2 separate regions of the Homo sapiens genome follow, and region 1 is linked to region 2. A link means that fine-mapping ties the variant in region 2 to the expression of a gene that starts in the linked region. Tissue or cell type: monocytes. Region 2 holds a variant in brackets; the other region holds the start of a gene. All regions are shown on one strand. Distances are from middle to middle.

Region 1 (10,466 bases), 50 kb after region 2:
CCTATGTGCCAGGCACTATCTCAGTACTCTCTGCGTGATAACATCTCAGTCCTCATAAAGACCTCAGTATGCCTGCGATGCAAACAACTGAGTCCCGGAGAGGTTAAGTAACTTGCCCCAGTTCACAAGCCTAGCAGGTGATAGAGGGAGAGGGAAGACTTGGGCTTGTGCACTGTGGCTGGAGAGAAACTCAGTCTTACCCATGATAAGATCCTGCCTCCCACATGATATGGCTTCAAAGGCAGTGTTATGAGTCGAATTGTGTCCGCCAAAATTAATGTGGTAATATCCTAATCCCCAGTACCTCAGAATGCGACTGTATTTTGAGACAGGGTCTTTAAAGAAGTGATTCAGGGCTGGGCGTGGTGGCTCATGCCTGTAATCCCAGCACTTTGGGAGACCAAGGTGGGCAGATCACAAGGTCAAGAGATCGTGACCATCCTGGCCAACATGGTGAAACCCCGTCTCTACTAAAAATACAAAAATTATCTGTGTGTGGTGGTGCACACCTGTAGTCCCGGCTACTCGGGAGCCTGAGGCAGAAGAATCGCTTGAACCCGGAAGGTGGAGGTTGCAGTGAGCCAAGATTGTGCCACTGCACTCCAGCCTGGCGACAGAGCGAGACTCCATCTCAAAAAAAAAAAGAAAGAAAGAGAGAGAGAGAGAGAGACAGAAGAAAGAAAGAAAGAAAGAAAGAAAGAAAGAAAGAAAGAAAGAAAGAAAGAAAGAAAGAAAGTGATTCAGTTACAAAGAGGCCATTAGAGTTGGTCTTCATCTAATCTGACTGTTTAATTTACAAGAAAAGGAAATATGGACACACAAAGAGACCCAAGGATGCACACAGATAGAAGAAAGATACAGCAAGAAGGCAGCCGTCTGCAAGCCAAGGAGAGGCCTCCAAAGAAACCTATCCTGCTGACACCATGATCTTCTACCTCCAGCCTCCAGAACTGTGACGAAATCAACTTCTATTGTTGAAGCCATGCTGTCTGTGGTACTTTGTAATGGCAGGCCAAGCTGACTATCAGGCCGTTGGAGCTGGGGAGGACCAGGTGCCTGAAGGAAAGTGTCAGGATGAAAGTGGACGGAAGGCCAAAGCTTTCCAAGCCTAGGTTATTCGTAGAACCATAAATGGGTGACTTAGCCACAGTTCCCAGGAGGCGTGTCTATTCACGGGGGACTGGAGGGCAGTGCCCTGAGTCTAAGGTTCCCTTTGATTCTTAAATTTCCACAGCACATTTCCGGAAGCCAGCCTTTCACATTCCCATCTCATTTTACGCCCACCCACCCACCAGTTGTTGGGGGTCACAGTGGGTGGGTGGTCTGATGTCTGACTTGGACTCCAGATCTCGTCCGGGTATAAACTGCAGGCTGAGAATTCTTGGGAAGCCTCCAAGGCAGGACCACTATCTGTGCTCTTCCTTATCAAAGTGGAGTCATTTATATTTTAATGAGATTATTTCCCAACACAACAGTTTATCTTTCATTTCATTTATCCCTTTGCCATCTGGTCCCCTTATGTTTGCATGTAGGGCTAGTGGCTTTCTTTGTCTAAGTAGATTTGTCAATAGTTTATAAATTTTCTTCTCATGATCATAATATTTATTTTTCACATTAGACAGACTCTTCTGGAGTCTTGGAAGAAAGAGATTTCTTTTTTTTTAATTTTAATGTCATTCTTTAACCTGTAATTTTTGTTTCTGGGAAATGTGTTTTCAAAAAGTAATTAATTAATTAAAATGAATGAGCAAAAGTTTCCAGACCAATATATTTTCTGGTTCTATTTGCTACTGGATAACCCTAACAAATATTTTACTTAAGGGACTAAATCAAGCTCGCCTAATAGCAAATGGTACAGATGCAATGAAAGTGGCCTAGCTTCCCTCTAAACTGAAATCCAAATCTGGGCAAATTCTATGTTCTGGAGATATTTATTTTTATCTGTTTTCAGTCTCTTGCTGTAAAGTTCTTATCTTAAAGCTACTTAGCTCCTCTTTTTTTGGCCCCCTCCCAATTACTCTTGGCCTTCTTAATTACTAATCCATCTCTTTCATCAGCAAAGTTGATGGACTCTATTTACCATCCGATTATCTTAAGTTTTTTCCTCCAAGACAGGGCTTTGGCATTCCAGTCCTATTCTAATGGCTGATGGCACTACATACCTCTCAGGTGCCTGGTGGGAAGGCCAGCCATGCCCATTGGCCTTGCCTTCTCTTGACCCAAAAAGCTCCATTAGGCCAGAAAATAGCTCTGGCCTATTCCTCAACATATCCCCAGCACCAGCCCCTGCCTAGTACACACTGAGTGTTCAATAAATAAATGAATGAACTGCCTTGTTTTCTAACACACCAACACATGCAATAATATAAACAGAGACTGAAACATGCTTTATAGGTGAAATACAACAAAAGATTGATGTTCAGACCTTTCTGAGAAAAAGTGATTAAAAAATCAGCAATATCTTTTATTCATATGCTTCGTAGTTTCTAAGGGGCTTTGAATCTCCTGTGAGATTTATATCAACAACCCCATTTTAAGGACAAAGGAAGCCTCACAAGAATTTTGTGAGATTTAAATAAATCATGTATGTAAAATCCTTACCACAAAGACTGACATGTAGTAAGAACTTTGGAAACAGTTGATGGTCTATCCTTTTTCTCTATCGAGAGTTTAAAGAACTAGTACATGATGGATTCCGATCCAGAAGTCAGGTTTCATGTTTCCTAGCCTGTTACACTTCCTGCCATACCTCAGTATTCCCCCAACACTGTTCTCAGGCTCTGATAGGAATATCTTTAGGGCAGCAGTCAAGACACCCTAAGCAGACCAGTGACACTTTTCTGTCCCCATCTTAAAGGGGTGGAGGAGAGCATCGTACCCCCATGATTAAAGAGACTGACATTAAACAGCTGGACTATGGAGTGTGGGAACCATGTAAGTTTAGGGGCTAGATACCCTGCAGTGATCACTTGAAGGTTCTTGTGCTGGTTACCTGCCAGCAACTCTTATACCCCGCCCTCCCAAAAAATGGGCCAGGTGCAATGCCTCATGCCTATAGTCCCAGCACTTTGAGAGGCCGAGGCAGGAGGATCACTTGAGGCCAGGAGTTCGAGACCAGCCTAGGCAACATATTTTTCTCTACAAAAAAATTAAAACTCAGCTGGGCATGGTGGCACGCCTGTAGTCCCAGCTACTCAGGAGGCTGGGAGGATCACTTGAATCAGGGAGGTGGAGGCTGTAGTGAGCTGTGATTGTGCCACTGTACTCTAGCCTGGGCAACAGAGTAAGACCCTGTCTCAAACAAACAAGCAAAAAATGAAGTGAGGCTTTTAAAACCTGGGAACTGAAGCAGAAAGCCATGCATCACTAGAATACAGTGATACCGTTCAAGCTTCTCTTCCATATAATAAATGCATCACTGAGTTGCCATTAGACTGCTATGCCAATGATGAATGATAACACTGTGTCCCCTGTGGGCGAGGGGAACCTGAATCCATGCATCATTTTGAGATGTGGCTTGAGGTTTTGGTCTGGCATGCCCTTTCTCTGGATATTTGAGAAAGGCAGAAATCATTTAAATAGCATCTCATTTTCCAAAGCCCATCTTCTAAAAGTCATGCTGATTTCACCCTTTCTTCCCTGGCCTTTTCCTTAGTACCATCTTCCTGAGGATACAACTGGCCCACTCATCAGCCTTCTAGGTAAGTGGCACAGGCTCCAGCTACCTTAAGTGGACTACCTGGCTTCCCTGCTCACTGATAGGGTGTCCTGGGACCAGGCACTCGAACTCGGTAGGGTTTAGTTTCCTTGACGGTAAAATAGAAAAGTAAGCCTGTTTCACAGCACTTCCCTGAGGATCAAATGAGGCACAGTTTGAATTGTTCCCACACAGAGTAAATAAAGGCAGGTTCCCTCCTGGCTGCAAGATAAAAAATGGGCAGGGGAATCTCCCTTGAAGAACTGGCACGCTCCTTTCTTTCAGCTAATGCCCACCAATATGTCCATTGCTGTTTGGGGTGCAAGAAATTTTAGGCTCAGTAAGGACAATTCCTCCCAATGGTTTGGATAGGGCTGTCAGAACTAAATTCAAGTTGTTCGAAGTCTCCTTCCGCCCGCCCTGCCAACTTGCCTCCCTCTTCACCCTCCTAATAGGAGGTGAGCCCCTCCAATAGCGATCATTAACTCACCCTAAGGTTATCCCCTTGCTGCAACAACCCGTGAATTGCAGGTTCATTCAATGCTCTTTAAATTATTTTTAAAGGCTTTTTTTTTTTTAAGTAGCAAAAGAATGCATGACACCTATTGTAAACTGGCAAGTTGAGGGGGTGGGATGCCGCTCAGACGTGTACTGAGAAAGGTGATAATGAATTTGGCGTCAGCAATTCTTCAGAAACTATAAGAAAACACCCAGGTGTTCGAATTGGTCCCAAAAGGGAAACAAATCCTTCCCAGCTTTCACGATGCGCTGAGGTTGGTTTTCTCAGTGCTCCTCCCAGATCAGGAGGTGGGGAACCTCGTGGCAAGCCCTGGGGCTCGGGATTCCCGGACTGTGGGCCTGGGGGAGAGAGGCGGCTCTCGTGTGCACACTTACCCCGCCCCCACAACACACACGCGGTCACGCACCACAGACGGGCACACGCGCTCAGCACAGCCACAGTCGCGTGCAACCAGGAGTGCACACCGCACCCACATCACACCGCATGCACAGACGCACGGGTGTGAGACCACACACCTCGGCCACTCACGCTCACACGCCCCCCACGCGCTCGCACACGCGCTCGCACGCGCACTCCCCGCGCACCGCCGCGCGCACACGCGGGTCCCGCCGGACGGCGAGGGGCGGGGCGGGCGCGGGCGCAGGCGCGGGTGCCCAGCCGGGCGCGGTCGGGAGAGGGCGCGGCGCGGGGTTCGCGGCTGGCGCTTGAGTTGTTTGCCGGCTCCCGGGCCGCCAGACGCTCGGAGGGAGCCCGGCCGGCTCGGACTGGGCGGCCGGGAGGGAGGGCGCCCCGGGTCACGACGGCGCCCGCAAGCCGAGCGCGGCCGGGACGTGCACCATGGACCCAAAGGCGGGCGGCGGCGGCGAGGAGGACGACTGCGTGGACTCGGGCGCCGAGACCGGAGGGTGAGCCGCGCCGGGCCGGGCCGCGGGCGGGGGGCGCTCTCCGAGTTGCGCGGCGGCTCCTCCCCGGACGGGGACCCTCCTGATCCGTGCGACGGGACCGGGGCGCGGGGCTTCTCCTCCTGCCGGATCCCCCGCTCTCTCCTGGGCGGGCCGCGCTGCCCTGGGCAGGGCGGGCACCACCCGGGGGGAGGAAAGTGGAAGGACTCAAGGTTCAGTGCAAGCCCACCCATCCTGTGAGGCGATGCAGAGCGCCAGGCGGATGCAAAGACCCCTTGTCTGCATCGCTAGAGACAGGAGATGCTCTTGCACTTGTTTCCTCCTTCCTCGGGGACTTTCCTCCTGTAGCTCCGGAGCCCCCTGGAGTCCGGCCCTGGAGATCGGGAGAGGAAGAAAAGCAGGGTGGGACACCCGCACCTAAAAGTCTTTCCGAAGTCGGCTAGGAGGATGGCATTTCTCGTTATATGGCTTCATCGTGGGACTTTAATCTGTGCTGCCGAGTCCCCCTCCCCGACTCCTCCAGTCCCGCCGAACTTCCTCACCTCTAAGTGCACCTGTCCCAGCTGGACCCTTTGGCCTGTTGTACCGGCGGGATGGAGATGGTGTTGGGATTAGGATCTAGCCCTGCCTTTTTTTTTTTTTAATATTCTCTTCGCTTCAGCGGACTCAAACAATGGGCTCAAACCTTTGGAGACTAATTAGTTAGTCTCCAAACACTGTTTTCCTGAGCGGAAGAAAAGACAAAATGCCTTTTAGGAGATGAATGTCGTTATAAAGGCTTCCAGGCAGCCTCTGTCTCTAAAGGACTTTCCTGTGCAGAGTCAGCACCACATCCAGGCCGCGGGTACTGACCCAGGAGGAAAGGGTGTTTTTTCCTATCTGGAGTAATCCTGGGGGAGGGCGGGAGCTGCCTAGACTACAGAAAGCCTCATTCCTGGAAGGTCGGAGAGGTTTTAGACTAATCTCAGGATTTGGCAACCCTGTGAGGGCAGGTAGAGAATCCAGGCCCACGATCGACCCAGAGTTCTAACCCAACCCCGGCAAAGCTCCCCACAGGGCCCCTCCTGCCCCACCACTCCTAGCCCAAATGCGGGACTTTACTCCCTAGGGCATTCACCCAGCAATGGGCTTTCTCTGTTATCCAAACTTATTCATAGCTCTCTACAGCACCCAATTATAATCTGGTGGAGTAACCTGATGCTAAATGCCAAACTTCCTTTCTTCTTCCCACTCTTTGTGTAAGTGGCATTTATCAACTTTAACAAGATTATTGGCTTTTTTTTTCTGCCATTAGTTAGCTGGACCATGAATAGAAGAAACAAAGCAAAATTAACCAGCTTATTTGTAACTGCGTTAAATAAAGCATTCACTAGTCTATTCATTTTCAATTTGCAGAACTCACCTAAAACTGATATTTTTTTCAAGGGCTCTGTCTTAGAGAAGGGAGAGGAAGTCCTGGACCCAGGGGGTGACATCGCCCCAGGATCTGGACATCAGCATGACAGCGGCCAGGCCTCCTGGGAGGGGCTCCCCACTCCTGCTGACACCAGAGCTTCTGTTCTCAGCCTCTGTCACTAAAATGTGTAGTTGTAACAGGACAGAATTGTTTAAAGAATTCTTGGCCAGGTGCGGTAGCTCGCGCCTATAATCCCAGCACTTTGGGTGGCCGAGGTGGGCGGATCACCTGAGGTCGGGAGTTTGAGACCAGCCTGGCCAACATGGAGAAACCTCATCCCTACTAAAAAATATACAGAATTAGCCAGGTGTGGTGGCGCATGCCTGTAATCCCAGCTACTCGGGAGGCTGAGGCAGGAGAATCGCTTGAACCCGGGAGGCGGAGGTTGCCATGAGCTGAGATCACGCCATTGCACTCCAGCATGGGCAACAAGAGCAAAACTCCATCTCCAAAAAAAAAGGAATTCTTACTGTATCACTAGTATCCTTAAGCTAAAGGTAAAATAGCATGCATTTCAATGTATGCTAATTAGTTTTGTGTTTGCCATATATTCACAGAGCCCTTGAATTTCAGTTATCAAAAAGCTGTTCATCGTTTCCCTGCTTTTCCAGAGCTTGCCCCCACCCCTTACCCTATCCAGCTTTCACAGAGATTATGTAGAAAGCACATAGAAGACAACAAGTGTTTGCTATCGTTAGTATTTTTAAAATGCAAATCTGATCATGTCTCTCCCTTTCAAACTTTTATGGCTCTGTTATCTACAAATGCAAGGAATTTAACGTGGCCTATATGCCCTGACTCCTGTTATGGAGTCCCTTCTTCCCTCCCTGGCCTTGTTTCTCAGCAGGTCCTTCTTTGCGCCTTGTATTTTTCTGTTTCCTCGCCTTTGTCAAGCTGCCCTCTTTGCCAGCTCTGCCCTTCCCACCTGACTTGCCTGTCTGCCAGGTGAAACTCTACTCTTCTTTCAGGACTCAGCTCAAGTGACACATCTGCTAAGGCAGTGATCCTTAATTTGGGGTCCATGAATTCCTTCAAGTTGTATGCAAAATGATGTGCTTTGTGAATTTGTATGAGAAGAGAACTTTTTTTTTTTATCAGATTCTCAAAGTAGCTGGTGATCTATTCCAAACCAAGTTTGGGCAAGATATGAGACATTTCATTTTCAACACACTGTGTCTGAGGTGTTGCAAGACATCCAAGTAAAGATGATGAATCAGCAGTTGGGTATATCTGTCTGGAACTCAGAAGGGAGGTCTTCATGATGACATTGCATTTGGGTACTATTTACCTAAAAATGGCAATGGAAGCTCTGGGAGAGACTAAATCAACTGAAGGTAATAGCAAGCACTTTCTTAGCATTTAGTATGTGCCACCTACTGTTCTAAGCCTTTATGTATTTCATGGACTCCTCGAATCCTTCAACAACTCTGTGCAGCAGGTGCTTTTTAAGACCAGCCTTGAGAAACTATATTTAAACGCCCAGTCAATGAGAATGAGCTGATAAAGGAGCCTGAGAAAGAGTAGACTTGGAGTCAAAGAAAGAAGAATATGAATCATTGAAGCCAAGGGAGGTTTGAGTTTTTGAGAAAGGAAGGAGAGATCAACTATGCTACTGAGAAACTAATGAAGATGAGGAACGCTAAATGTCTTTTTTAAATGGAGATGATGAAGTGAAGGAAGAGTGGTATTTCACAGCGGGGTGGTGGAGGCAGGAGCCAGATTAGAGTGGCTCTAGAAGGCAGTAGAAGGTGAAGAAAAGGAGACAGGTGGATTCCTTTGTCTGGAAAAAGGAGAGGCAAAAAGAGGCAGTAGCTAAAGGGGAGAGTGGAGTGAAGAAAGATTTCTTAAATATAGGTGCTAATTGAGCAATCAGTGTGATAGAAAGGATTCTATAGAAGGGGGAAGGAGAAGGAGGAGAAAAGATGATAATCTGTAATGTTGCTTGCTTGCTTTCTTTTTTTTTTTTTTTTTTTTTTTTTTTTTTTTTTTAACAGACAGGTCTCTCTGTCACCCAGGCTGGAGTGCATTGGTGGAATCATGGCTCACTGCAACCTCAAATTCCAAGGCTCAAGTAATCCTCCCACCTCAGCCTCCTAAGTAGCTGGGATTACAGGCCCGCACCACCGACACCATGCCCAGCTAATTTTTTTATTTTTATAAACACAAGGTCCTGCTATGTTGCTCAGAAACTGTCTTAAACTCCTGGCCTCAAGCAGTCCTTCCACCTTGGCCTCCCAAAGCACTAGGATTATAGTTGTGAGCCACTGCTTCTGGCCCTATAGTGTCAGCATTCTGAAAAAGTGGAGGCAGATGGACTTCATACCACAGGGGGATGGATGGCTTTAGGTAGGAGGCAGGACATCCCCTCCTGCAATTAGAAGGGCAGGCAAGATGGGGTTTCTCTTTGGTGTAAATACAGCCCTCCATCATCTGAGGAGAATGGAGATTTGAATAGTTGTTTGGGGCAATGTTGAGTGGGTGCCCAGTTGAAATTTGCAATTACGTATTTAAATAAATAACAAGGGGTACGAGTTCCCGTTGTTATTTATTTTCTCGCAGCAATGCTCAACTACCTAGGGTCAGGCAGAGAGAGAGAGTGGGTAGTTAGGATCATCAGAATTTGGGGTAAGGGGGTGTGAACAAAACACAGAAACAAGGGCTGTCAGGGTATTGCTTAAGCTGATTATCCTTTCAGTGGCATGATGGAAGAAACAGTTCCGAGAAACTTTGTGGGTCCCACTGCCAGTGGCCATGTTGGCCACTTTGAAAGTTACAGTCACAAGAGCCAGCCTGCTTGCATTCATATTCTGGCTCCTCCACTTAGGGACTGTGAAACCTTGATCCAGTGACTTAACCTCTCTCTGCTCTCAGTTTCCTCCTCTGTACAAGAGGGATGACGATAGTAGTACCTACCTTCTAGGGTTGGTGTGAGGATTAAATGAGCATATATATTTAAAGCCCCTAGAACAGTGGCTGTTCAGTGTCTAGAACCCTTAGTACATGATTATTTCTCACCATACTATATTATTATTGTTATGAGGAACACTCCAAATTATAAACTTAGAGTTTTATTTAATAAAAATGGTGAACTCAAGACCATATGTTTTTCAAACTCATCACAATAGATCCTCTGTTGCTTTTAAATACCTTAAGTAATTTGATCATTCAGAGCATCTGAGAGACTACAGGGCATGCCTCACTATTCTAATAATTATATTTTACAGATGAGGAAATGGAGACTCAGAGGGCACATGGCTCGTTAGAGGCATGAATTGAAGCCTGGATCTCCAGTATGCTTCCCACCTAGTGAAGTTGCCTCTCCAGGAGCTGTCTGATCTGTAATTAATTCTTGTTTTCTGCTCAGACATTTTCTTTTGCTTGAAATGCTGCTGCTGCTGTCTCACCCACCTAATACAGGCCAAGACTAAAAGCAAACTAGTATTCTTCTGTAGCAATTGATATCATTTTGAAACTCCCATTTTCCAAATCCACTTGAAAGATGCCTTGTGCTTTTATGTACTTTCTGTTAGCAAAAACTGGCAAGTCGGCTGCTGATGGTGGTAAACTATCTTAAGAAACAGAATCCCTTAAATAGAAGGACAGCCAGTTCCTTGTAAACCCAAATAAAAGCCAGTGCTTTATAATGACTGTTTCATTAGTGATGTCTTCAAGATTTGGCATGTAAGCCACTCTTTTGTATGTGATGGGTTATTTTCATTCAATAGTTTGGTCTGGCATTAATGAACTTCCACTTCCATCTCAGCTGTCACTGAGCTTCTGAACCTGTAGGGCCATACCATGCCCTGTTTCTTTGGAGGACCTCCAATTGATACTTCGCTGTGACTTAAGACATAACAAAAAATCAGGGGTCTAGACTTTAAATAGGTGGGT
Region 2 (10,466 bases):
CTTGGACAAGTCAGAAGAAGGGGGGATTTCTAGAAGAAAGCACACACAAGCACCTTCTAAAGCTGAAAAGCCCTGTTTAGATATTTGTCTAACAACAATAGGTACAAAGCCCATGACTCAAGGATTCCCCAGATCCCTCCCAAAAACAGAGCCTAAGGAGTCAGCCATTGAAAACCTGGACCTTACCTTCCAGCAATGGCACAGGGTCCCTGATGGTGGTGCGGGGAGTGCTGGGTGCATGGGAGGGAGAAATACCCTTGCTCACAGAGACTGCAAGTCTCTTTGTGATACAAAATGACAGGAAAGTGACAAATAGCCTTTAATTCCATTTTCATGATTTAAAAAGTCTCAGGGCTCCATTTATTTATTTTTAATCTTCTGGGTGGGTGTGTCTTTTCTATCAGGATAAATGCCTGATTGGGCCTCGGCTAATCAACTCTAGCGGTTTCTGATTCTACCCAGGTATGATGGAAGATAACATATGTGTCTAACTTGATTGCCAGGCTTTGGTTGTATTGTACATCCTGCTGCCTTGTGGCTTTTACCTTTAATCTCTGTGAGCTCTGTATGCTCAGAGAATCTTTCAAAATCATTTATCTTAAGCTATCCAGCTGCTGCCTCTCAGTGTGTATGTCCGGCCAGAAGATGAAATTCCCATGAGCAAATGTGGGCTCTAAGCCCTCAGTGGCTATACAACACAGCCTTCCTGATAGACTCTCCAGAGTTTCATATTTTCTAGAAAGGAGAAGAAAAAAGGGACACTTCATTGTTGACCACCTACTATGTACCAGATGCTCCAACAGACACCTTATAAGCATTACTCCCCATTTATGGTCTCTTTTTCACAGACAAGAAAATGTGCCAAAGGAAAGCCCAGTTTGCAAGAAGCAAAGCCAAGATTTAAACCTAGTTTAGACTGTCAGTTGCATAAATCGGAGGTGCAGTTTCTCACTGTCTGGTAAAGTCTTATGTGCCAGAGATTGCTAGCTATCTCCTAGTAACTGTTGTCCCTTCTCTCTCAATTTCAGCTGAACAAATAGTTTCTCCAAATAAAGGCTATATTTCCCAGCCTCCTTTGCAACATGGCGTTGTCATGCAGCAAAGTTCTGACAAGTGGGAAGTAGTTGGAAGTGGTGAGCTTCTTCTAAGTTGCCCCATTAAAAGGAAAGGGCTTTCTTCCCCTGCCCACTGGCATCTTAGGCAAAAATGATGAGTTATTTCGGACTATGTAGATAAAGGCAACTCCCTACAGAGAGGAAGCAATAATGCAGAATGGGTCCCCATCACCAATGACATGAAGCCATCCTACCAATCCTGGGCTGCTTACATACCAACTAATATGGTTTGAATGTCTGTCCCCACCCAAATCCCACATCAAATGGTAATCCCCAATGTTGGAGGAGGGGTCAGGTGGGAGGTGATTGGATCATGGGGGCAGACTTTCCCCTTGCTGTTCTCATATTAGTGAGTGAGTTCTCATGAGATCTAGTTGTTGAAAAGTGTGTGGCACCTCCCTGCTCTCTCTCTCTTCCTCCTTCTCTCGCCATCTAAGATAAGCCTCTTTCCTCTTTGCCTTCCGCCATAATTGTAAGTTTCCTGAGGCCTCACCAGCCATGTTTCCTGTACAGCCTGTGGAACTGTGAGCCAATTAAACCTCTTTGCTTTATAAATAACCCAGTTTCGGGTGGTTCTTTGTAGCAAAGCGAGAACAGACTAATATAGAAAATTGGTACTTAGGAGTGGGGCATTGCTATGAGATATCTGCAAATGTGGAAACAACATTGGAACTTGGTTTAACAAGCAGAGATTAGAACAGTTTAGAGGGCTCAGAAGAAGACAGGAAGATGAGGGAAAGTTTGGAACTTCCTAGAGACTTGTTAAATTGTTGTGCCCAAAATACTGACAGTGCTATGGACAACGAAATCCAGGCTGAAGAGGTCTCAGATGGAGATGAGGAATTTATTGAGAACCAGAGCCAAAGTCACTTTTGTTATGCAGGAGCAAACAGATGATCTGAAACTGGAAGCAGAGTGTAAAAGTTTGGAAAATTTGTAGCCCAGCTATGTGGTAGAAAAGAAAAACCCATTTTCTGTGGAGGAATTCAAGCCAGCTGCAGAAATTTGCATATGTAAAGAGGAGCCAAATGTTGATAGCCAACATAATAGGGAAAATGCCTCAAAGGCATTTCAGAGGTCTTTGCAGCAGCCCCTCCCATCCCAGGCCTGGAGGCCCACAAGGAAAGAATAGTTTTGTGGGCCAGGACCAAGGTCCGGCCACTCTGTGCAGCCTGGGGACATGGTGCCCTGAATCCTGGCTGCCCCAGCTCCAGCCATGGCTAAAAGGGGCCAAGGTATAGCTCAGGCAGAGGGTGCCAGCCATAAGCCTTGGCAGCTTCCATGTGGTGTTAAGCCTGCAAGTACACAGAGTGTGAGAGTTGAAGCTTGGAAGCCTCTGCCTAGATTTCAGAGGATGTGTGGAAATCCTTGAATGTCCAGGAAGATTGCTGCAGGGGTGGAGTCTGTCAGGCCTCTGAGCCCAAGCCAAGCCATCGCATCCCCTGTGACTTGCATGTATACGCCCAGATGGCCTGAAGTAACTGAAGAATCACAAAAGAAGTGAATATGCCTTGCCCCACCTTAACTGATGACATTCCACCACAAAAGAAGTGTAAATGGCCGGTCCTTGCCTTAACTGATGACACTACCTTGTGAAAGTCCTTTTCCTGGCTCATCCTGGCTCAAAAAGCACCCCCACTGAGCACCTTGCGATCCCCACTCCTACCCGCCAGAGAACAAACCCCCTTTGACTGTAATTTTCCTTTACCTACCCAAATCCTATAAAACGGCCCCACCCTTATCTCCGTTTGCTGACTCTTTTCGGACTCAGCCTGCCTGCACCCAGGTGAAATAAACAGCCATGTTGCTCACACAAAGCCTGTTTGGTGGTCTCTTCACACGGACGCGCATGAAGTTTGGTGCCATGACTCGGATCGGGGGACCTCCCTTGGGAGATCAATCCCCTGTCCTCCTGCTCTTTGCTCCGTGAGAAACATCCACCTACGACCTCAGGTCCTCAGACCGACCGGCCCAAGAAACATCTCACCAATTTCGAATCCGGTAAGTGGCCTCTTTTTACTCTCTTCTCCAATCTCCCTCACTATCCCTCAACCTCTTTCTCCTTTCAATCTTGGCGCCACACTTCAATCTCTCCCTTCTCTTAATTTCAATTCCTTTCATTTTCTGGTAGAGACAAAAGAGACATGTTTTATCCATGAACCCAAAACTCCAGCGCCGGTCACGGGCTGGGAAGGCAGCCTTCCCCTTGGTGTTTAATCATTGCAGGGACACCTCTCTGATTATACACTCACGTTTCAAGGGTGTCAGACCACGCAGGGACGCCTGCCTTGGTCCTTCACCCTTAGCGGCAAGTCCCGCTTTCCTGGGGCAGGGGCAAGTATCCCTCAACCCCTTCTCCTTCACCCTTAGTGGCAAGTCCCGCTTTCCTGGAGCAGGGGCAAGTACCCCTCAATCCCTTCTCCTTCACCCTTAGTGGCAAGTCCCGCTTTCCTAGGGGGCAAGAAGCCCCCAGTTGCTTATTTCCACACCCCAACCTCTTATCTCTGTGCCCCAATCCCTTATTTCCGCACCCTGACCTCTTATCTCTGTGCCCCCATCCCTTATTTCCGTGCCCCAACCCCTTCTCTGCTTTTCTGGAGGGCAAGAACCCCCCAACCCTTCTCCGTGTCTCTTTTCTCTGGGCTTGCCTCCTTCACTATGGGTAAGCTTCCACCCTCCATTCCTCCTTCTCCTCCCTTAGCCTGTGTTCTCAAAAACTTAAAACCTCTTCAACTCACACCTGACCTAAAACCTAAATGACTTATTTTCTTCTGCAATGCCGTTTGACCCCAATACAAACTCGACAGTAGTTCCAAATAGCCAGAAAATGGCACTTTGAATTTTTCCATCCTGCAAAATCTAAATAATTCTTGTCGTAAAATAGGCAAACGGTCTGAGGTGCCTGACGTCCAGGCATTCTTTTACACATCAGTCCCTTCCTAGTCTCTGTGACCAGTGCAACTCGTCCCAAATCTTCCTTCTTTCCCTCCCGCCTGTCCCCTCAGTACCAACCCCAAGCGTCGCTGAGTCTTTCTAATCTTCCTTTTCTACAGACCCATCTGACCTCTCCCTTCCTCCCCAGGCTGCTCCTGGCCAGGCCGAGCTAGGTCCCAATTCTTCCTCAGCCTCTGCTCCTCCACCCTATAATCTTTTTATCACCTCCCCTCCTCACACCTGGTCGGGCTTACAGTTTCGTTCGGTGACTAGCCCTCCCCCACCTGCCCAGCAATTTACTCTTAAAAAGGTGGCTGGAGCTAAAGGCATAGTCAAGGTTAATGCTCCTTTTTCTTTACCCCAAATCAGATAGCGTTTAGGCTCTTTTTCATCAAATATAAAAATCCAGCCCAGTTCATGGCTTGTTTGGCAGCAACCCTGAGACGCTTTACAGCCCTAGACCCTAAAAGGTCAAAAGGCCGTCTTATGCTCAATATACATTTTATTACCCAATCTGCTCCCGATATTAAATAAAACTCCAAAAATTAAATTCTGGCCCTCAAACCCCACAACAGGATTTAATTAACCTCACCTTCAAGGTGTACCATAATAGAAAAAAGTTGCAATTCCTTGCCTCCACTGTGAGACAAACCCCAGCCACGTCTCCAGCACACAAGAACTTCCAAACGCCTGAACCGCAGCGGCCAGGCGTTCCTCCAGAACCTCCTCCCACAGGAGCTTGCTACACGTGCCAGAAATCTGGCCACTGGGCCAAGGAATGCCCGCAGCCTGGGATTCCTCCTAAGCCGCGTCCCATCTGTGTGGGACCCCACTGAAAATCGGACTGTTCAACTCACCTGGCAGCCACTCCCAGAGCCCCTGGAACTCTGGCCCAAGCCTCTCTGACTGACTCCTTCCCAGATCTTCTCGGCTTAGCGGCTGAAGACTGACACTGCCGGATCACCTCGGAAGCCCCCTAGACAGTCACTGACGCCGAGCTTCAGGTAACTCTCACAGTGGAAGGTAAGCCCGTCCCCTTCTTAATCAATACGGAGGCTACTCACTCCACATTACCCTCTTTTCAAGGGCCTGTTTCCCTTGCCTCCATAACTGTTGTGGGTATTGACGGCCAGGCAAACCTCTTAAAACTCCCCAACTCTGGTGCCAACTTAGACAATACTCTTTTAAGCACTCCTTTTTAGTCATCCCCACCTGCCCAGTTCCCTTATTAGGCCGAGACACTTTAACTAAATTATCTGCTTCCCTGACTATTCCTGGACTACAGCTATATCTCATTGCCGCCCTTCTTCCCAATTCAAAGCCTCCTTTGCGTCCTCCTCTTCTATCCCCCCACCTTAACCCACAAGTATAAGATACCTCTACTCCCTCCTTGGCGACCGATCATGCACCCCTTACCATCTCATTAAAACCTAATCACCCTTACCCCACTCAACGCCAATATCCCATCCCGCAGCACGCTTTAAAAAGATTAAAGCCTGTTATCACTCGCCTGCTACAGCATGGCCTTTTAAAGCCTATAAACTCTCCTTACAATTCCCCCATTTTACCTGTCCTAAAACCAGACAAGCCTTACAAGTTAGTTCAGGATCTGCACCTTATCAACCAAATTGTTTTGCCTATCCACCCCGTGGTGCCAAACCCGTATACTCTCCTGTCCTCAATACCTGCCTCTACAACCCATTATTCTGTTCTAGATCTCAAACATGCTTTCTTTACTATTCCTTTGCACCCTTAATCCCAGCCTCTCTTTGCTTTCACTTGGACTGACCCTGACACCCATCAAGCTCAGCAAATTACCTAGGCTGTACTGCCGCAAAGCTTCTCAGACAGCCCCCATTACTTCAATCAAGCCCAAATTTCTTCCTCATCTGTTACCTATCTCGGCATAATTCTCATAAAAACACACGTGCTCTCCCTGCCAATCGCGTCCGACTGATCTCTCAAACCCAAGCACCTTCTA[T/C]AAAACAACAACTCCTTTCCTTCCTAGGCGTGGTTAGCGCGGTCAGAATTCTTACACAAGAGCCAGGACCACACCCTGTAGCCTTTCTGTCCAAACAACTTGACCTTACTGTTTTAGCCTAGCCCTCATGTCTGCGTGCAGCGGCTGCCGCTGCTTTAATACTTATAGAGGCCCTCAAAATAAGTAGAGGCCTTTCATACAGGGTCTGAGAAGGCCACCGCAGTCATTTCTTCCCTTCTGTCAGACATAATTCCTCAGTCTAGCCTTCCCACCTCAATACAGTCTGATAACAGACGAGCCTTTATTAGTCAAATCAGCCAAGCAGTTTTTCAGGCTCTTAGTATTCAGTGAAACCTTTATATCCCTTATAGTCCTCCATCTTCAAGAAAACACACCTCACCAAGCTCAGCCACCAACTTAAAAAGGACTGGACAATACTTTTACCACTTTCCCTTCTCAGAATTCAGGCCTGTCCTCAGAATGCTACAGGGTACAGCCCATTTAAGGTCCTGTATAGATGCTCCTTTTTATTAGGCCCCAGTCTCATTCCAGACACCAGACCAACTTAGACTGTGCCTCAAAAAAAAAAAATCCCAAAAAAAAAAACTTGTCATCCCTACTATTTTCTGTCTAGTCATACTGCTATTCACCGTTCTCAACTACTCATACATGCCCTGCTCTTGTTTACACTGCCAGTTTACACTGTTTTTCCAAGCCATCACAGCTGATATCTCCTGGTGCTATCCCCAAACTGCCACTCTTAACTCTTGAAGTACATAAATAATCTTTGCTGGCAGGACTATGCTGAATCTCCTTAGGCACTCTCTAATCAGACATCCTGAGTTGTCCCAATTCTTAGGCCTTTTATACCTGTTTTTCTCCTTCTGTTATTTCATTTAGTTTTTCAATTCATACAAAACCGTATCCAGGCCATCACCAATCATTCTATATGACAAATGTTTCTTCTAACATCCCCACAATATCACGCCTTACCACAAGACCTCCCTTCAGCTTAATCTCTCCCACTCTAGGTTCCCACGCCGCCCCTAATCCCGCTCGAAGCAGCCCTGAGAAACATCGCCCATTCTCTCTCCATACCACCCCCCAAAAAATTTTCACCGCCCCAACACTTCAACACTATTTTGTTTTATTTTTCTTATTAATATAAGAAGGCAGGAATGTCAGGCCTCTGAGCCCAAGCCAAGCCATCGCATCCCCTGTGATTTGCACGTATATGCCCAGATGGCCTGAAGTAACTGAAGAATCACAAAAGAAGTGAATATGCCTTGCCCCACCTTAACTGATGACATTCCACCACAAAAGAAGTGTAAATGGCCGGTCCTTGCCTTAACTGATGACATTACCTTGTGAAAGTCCTTTTCCTGGCTCATCCTGGCTCAGAAAGCACCCCCACTGAACACCTTGCGACCCCCACTCCTGCCCGCCAGAGAACAAACCCCCTTTGACTGTAATTTTCCTTTACCTACCCAAATCCTATAAAACGGCCCCACCCTTATCTCCCTTCGCTGACTCTCTTTTCGGACTCAGCCCGCCTGCACCCAGGTGAAATAAACAGCCATGTTGCTCACACAAAGCCTGTTTGGTGGTCTCTTCACACGGACACGCATGAAAGAGTCCTCATGGAGAAACTCTACTAGGGCAAAGTGGAGGGGAAATGCAGGCTTGGAGTCCCCCACACAGAATCCCCACTGGGGCACCGCCTAGTGGAGCTGTGAGAAGAGGGTCACTGTCTTCCGGACCCCAGAATTGTAGATCCACTGACAGCTTGCACTGTGCTTCTGGAAAAGCCACCGGCACTCAATGCCAGCCAGCCGGTGAAAGCAGTCGAGGGGACTGTATCCCGCAGAACCACAAGGGTGGAGCTTCCCAAGGCCTTGAGAGCCCAGCCCTTGCATCAGTGTAGCCTGGACGTGAGACATGGAGTCAAAAGAGATTATTTTGGAGCTTTAAGATTCAATGGCTGCCCTGCTGGGTTTTGAACTTGCACGTGGCCTGTAGCCTCTTTGTTTTGCCTGATTTCTCTCTTTTGGAATGGGAGTGTTTAGCCAATGCCTGTGCCCCTATTGTATCTTGGAAGTAACTAACTTGTTTTTTTATTTTATAGACTCATGGGCAGAAGGGACTTGCCTTGTCTCAGATGAGACTTTGGACTGTGGACTTTTGAGTTAACACTGAAATGAGTTAAAATTTAGGGGACTGTTGAGAAGAGATTATTGTATTTTGTAGTGTGAGAAGGACATGATATTTGGGAGGGGTTGGGGTGGAATTATATGGTTTAAATTTGGGTCCTCATTACCAATGCCATGAAGCCATCCTACAAATCCTGGGCTGCTTACACACCAATTAATATGGTTTCAATTTGTGTCCCTGACCAAATCTCATGTTGAACTGTAATCCCCAATGTTGGGGTAGGGGTCTGGTGGAAGGTTATTGGATCATGGGGGCAGACATTCCCCTTGCTGTTCTCATGATGGTGAATGAGTTCTCATGAGATGTGGTTGTTTAAAAGTATGTAACACCTCTCCTCCTCTCTCTGTTTCTCCTGCTCTAGCCATGTAAAACGTGCCTCCTCCCTCTTTGCCTTCTGCCATGATTGTAAGTTTCCTGAGGCCTCCCAACCATGCTTCCTGTACAGCCTGTGGAACTGTAAGCTGATTAAACCTCTTTTCTTTATAAATTACCCAGTTTCAGGTAGTTGTTTATAGCAATGTGAGAACAAACTAATATACCAACTATGACATGAAAGAGAAAGAAATCTCTATCTTGTTTAATCAACTATCATTTCAGATCTCTGCCACCATGACCAAGGCTATAGCTTAACTAAAATCTCTTTTTTCAGAAGGTTATATTTTCTCCCCATATCCCTCTTTAGGATCAAGTATTCTCTCAAAGGAATTTAGGTAAACACAAGAATAACACATTTTGGTGGGAAACCCTTATTGGTTACAGAACACCTTCAAAAGCTAATAATTTTGCATTCAAAGAAATATATGAAATTAAGAAATTTTGAAAATAAAAAACCTTAGCAACATCCAAGGGCCTGTTAGGGTAGATATTATCGTTTCTAAGATGCAGTGATGAAGTAATGTGTATTAGAGAAGCACATGCTGCATTCATTTAATTTTTAACCTTTTGGGTGAATGTCCCTTTTTTTAGGAACGTCCTGAAAATATGGATGTGAACATAGTGGCTTTGAAATCAAAGAGAATCAAGGCCAGGTGCCAGCTCAGCCCCTTAGTAGCACAAGCAAAGTCTTTAATTTTTCTAAGCATTAACAACTATTCAGCGAACGGTAACTCAGACCTCATGCAATAGGAAAAGTAAAAGCAATGATATACAAATTCACAAACAAATAAATATAAAAGAGCAATAAGCATATGGGAAAAAGTCAGCTCAATAGATACCAGAGGAGTAAAAATGTGGAAGAATTATATAACTCGAAGAATTGTCCCAGAAAATTTGGAACCATATTAGAGTACCTTACGTATAGTAGAAGCTTGGCAAGTGTCCATGGTTGGTCCAACCAGCTCTGAATTTTGTTTGCATTTCACAGCAACTAATTCTTTTAATTTCAGGGAAAGTGGCTGTGTCTGCAGCTTTATGTCTGTCTTACAGAAAAACTGGTTCAATATAACTTGAAGACTAGAGGGGGAAGTTATAATAATAGACAGTTGTGTTTGGTTTACATTTAGATGCTGGTGAGCAGATATACCCTTGAACACAGAAAAGGTCACAAAACATGAAGTCAGGAGCCACTAGTTTTAGTCTGAGTTCTACCATCTACTGGCTCCATCAAATTTTGGTCAGCCTCAGTTTTCCCATATGAATCTATGGCATTACATGTTTGTTTGTTTGCTTGTTTTTAATTAATGGCCAGATACTTCAATTAGTACAAACATAGATACCAAGCAATGAAATAAACCCCGAAGAAGTGAAATGACAATGTGTAGCAAACAACCAACTACAACTCAATGAGCAGGAGGAAGTGACCTGTCCTCCAGGATGCAGACAGTGCAAAGGAATGAACTACAAAACCCCCACACCTTCCACATTCCCAACTGTCCTGAATAGCCAAATCCATGTGCCATTATTTCAGACTGCAGCTCCCACCAAACACACACACATAAACACTCACATACCTTTTCTATAGATCTCTAACCCATCTTTGTCCCCTACACTAGATTTCAAAGATTGACATTTCCAATCCAGTGTCTACCTCTATACATGCTGTAGTCACATGTCTGCTGCATTCTCCAAACTCTCTGGAACTAAACTGAATGTCTCAAGCCTCCATGACCTGGGCCTGTAATCCCATTGTTTGTTCTACTTGGTGGAGAGGTCTCAGAGTCTTTTTCCCAACTCAGATGCCCCTGCTACAAGGTAATACCTAAAAAGCCCATTGAAAAAATAAAAAT

Direction of the effects. Alleles are on the strand shown, and positions count from the first base shown. SD is a standard deviation of normalised expression in the study named.
For the expression in monocytes of the gene that starts at base 4,951 in region 1, allele T in region 2 goes with a higher level than allele C (large effect, 0.78 SD a copy in Quach 2016).

What was found. PIP is the estimated chance that this variant, and not a neighbour inherited with it, causes the effect.
Region 1: it holds the start of FAM124A, and the variant in region 2 is fine-mapped to the expression of FAM124A in monocytes (Quach 2016, PIP 0.95).

Annotation. Positions count from the first base shown.
Region 1 is chr13:51,217,448-51,227,913 of GRCh38, forward strand. It overlaps FAM124A (family with sequence similarity 124 member A), which reads left to right and starts at 4,951. Exons shown (of 4, transcript NM_001242312.2): 1 at 4,951-5,122. The coding sequence starts at 5,055. RefSeq lists an enhancer at 4,099-4,889 and silencers at 4,670-4,719, 4,840-4,899.
Region 2 is chr13:51,167,347-51,177,812 of GRCh38, forward strand. It overlaps a transcript of C13orf42 not described here. Among named protein-coding and RNA genes, the nearest start is that of FAM124A, 50 kb to the right of the region's middle. RefSeq lists enhancers at 959-1,878, 1,879-2,798, 2,799-3,718, 6,479-7,398, 7,399-8,317. The variant T/C (reference allele first, on the strand shown) is at 6,031.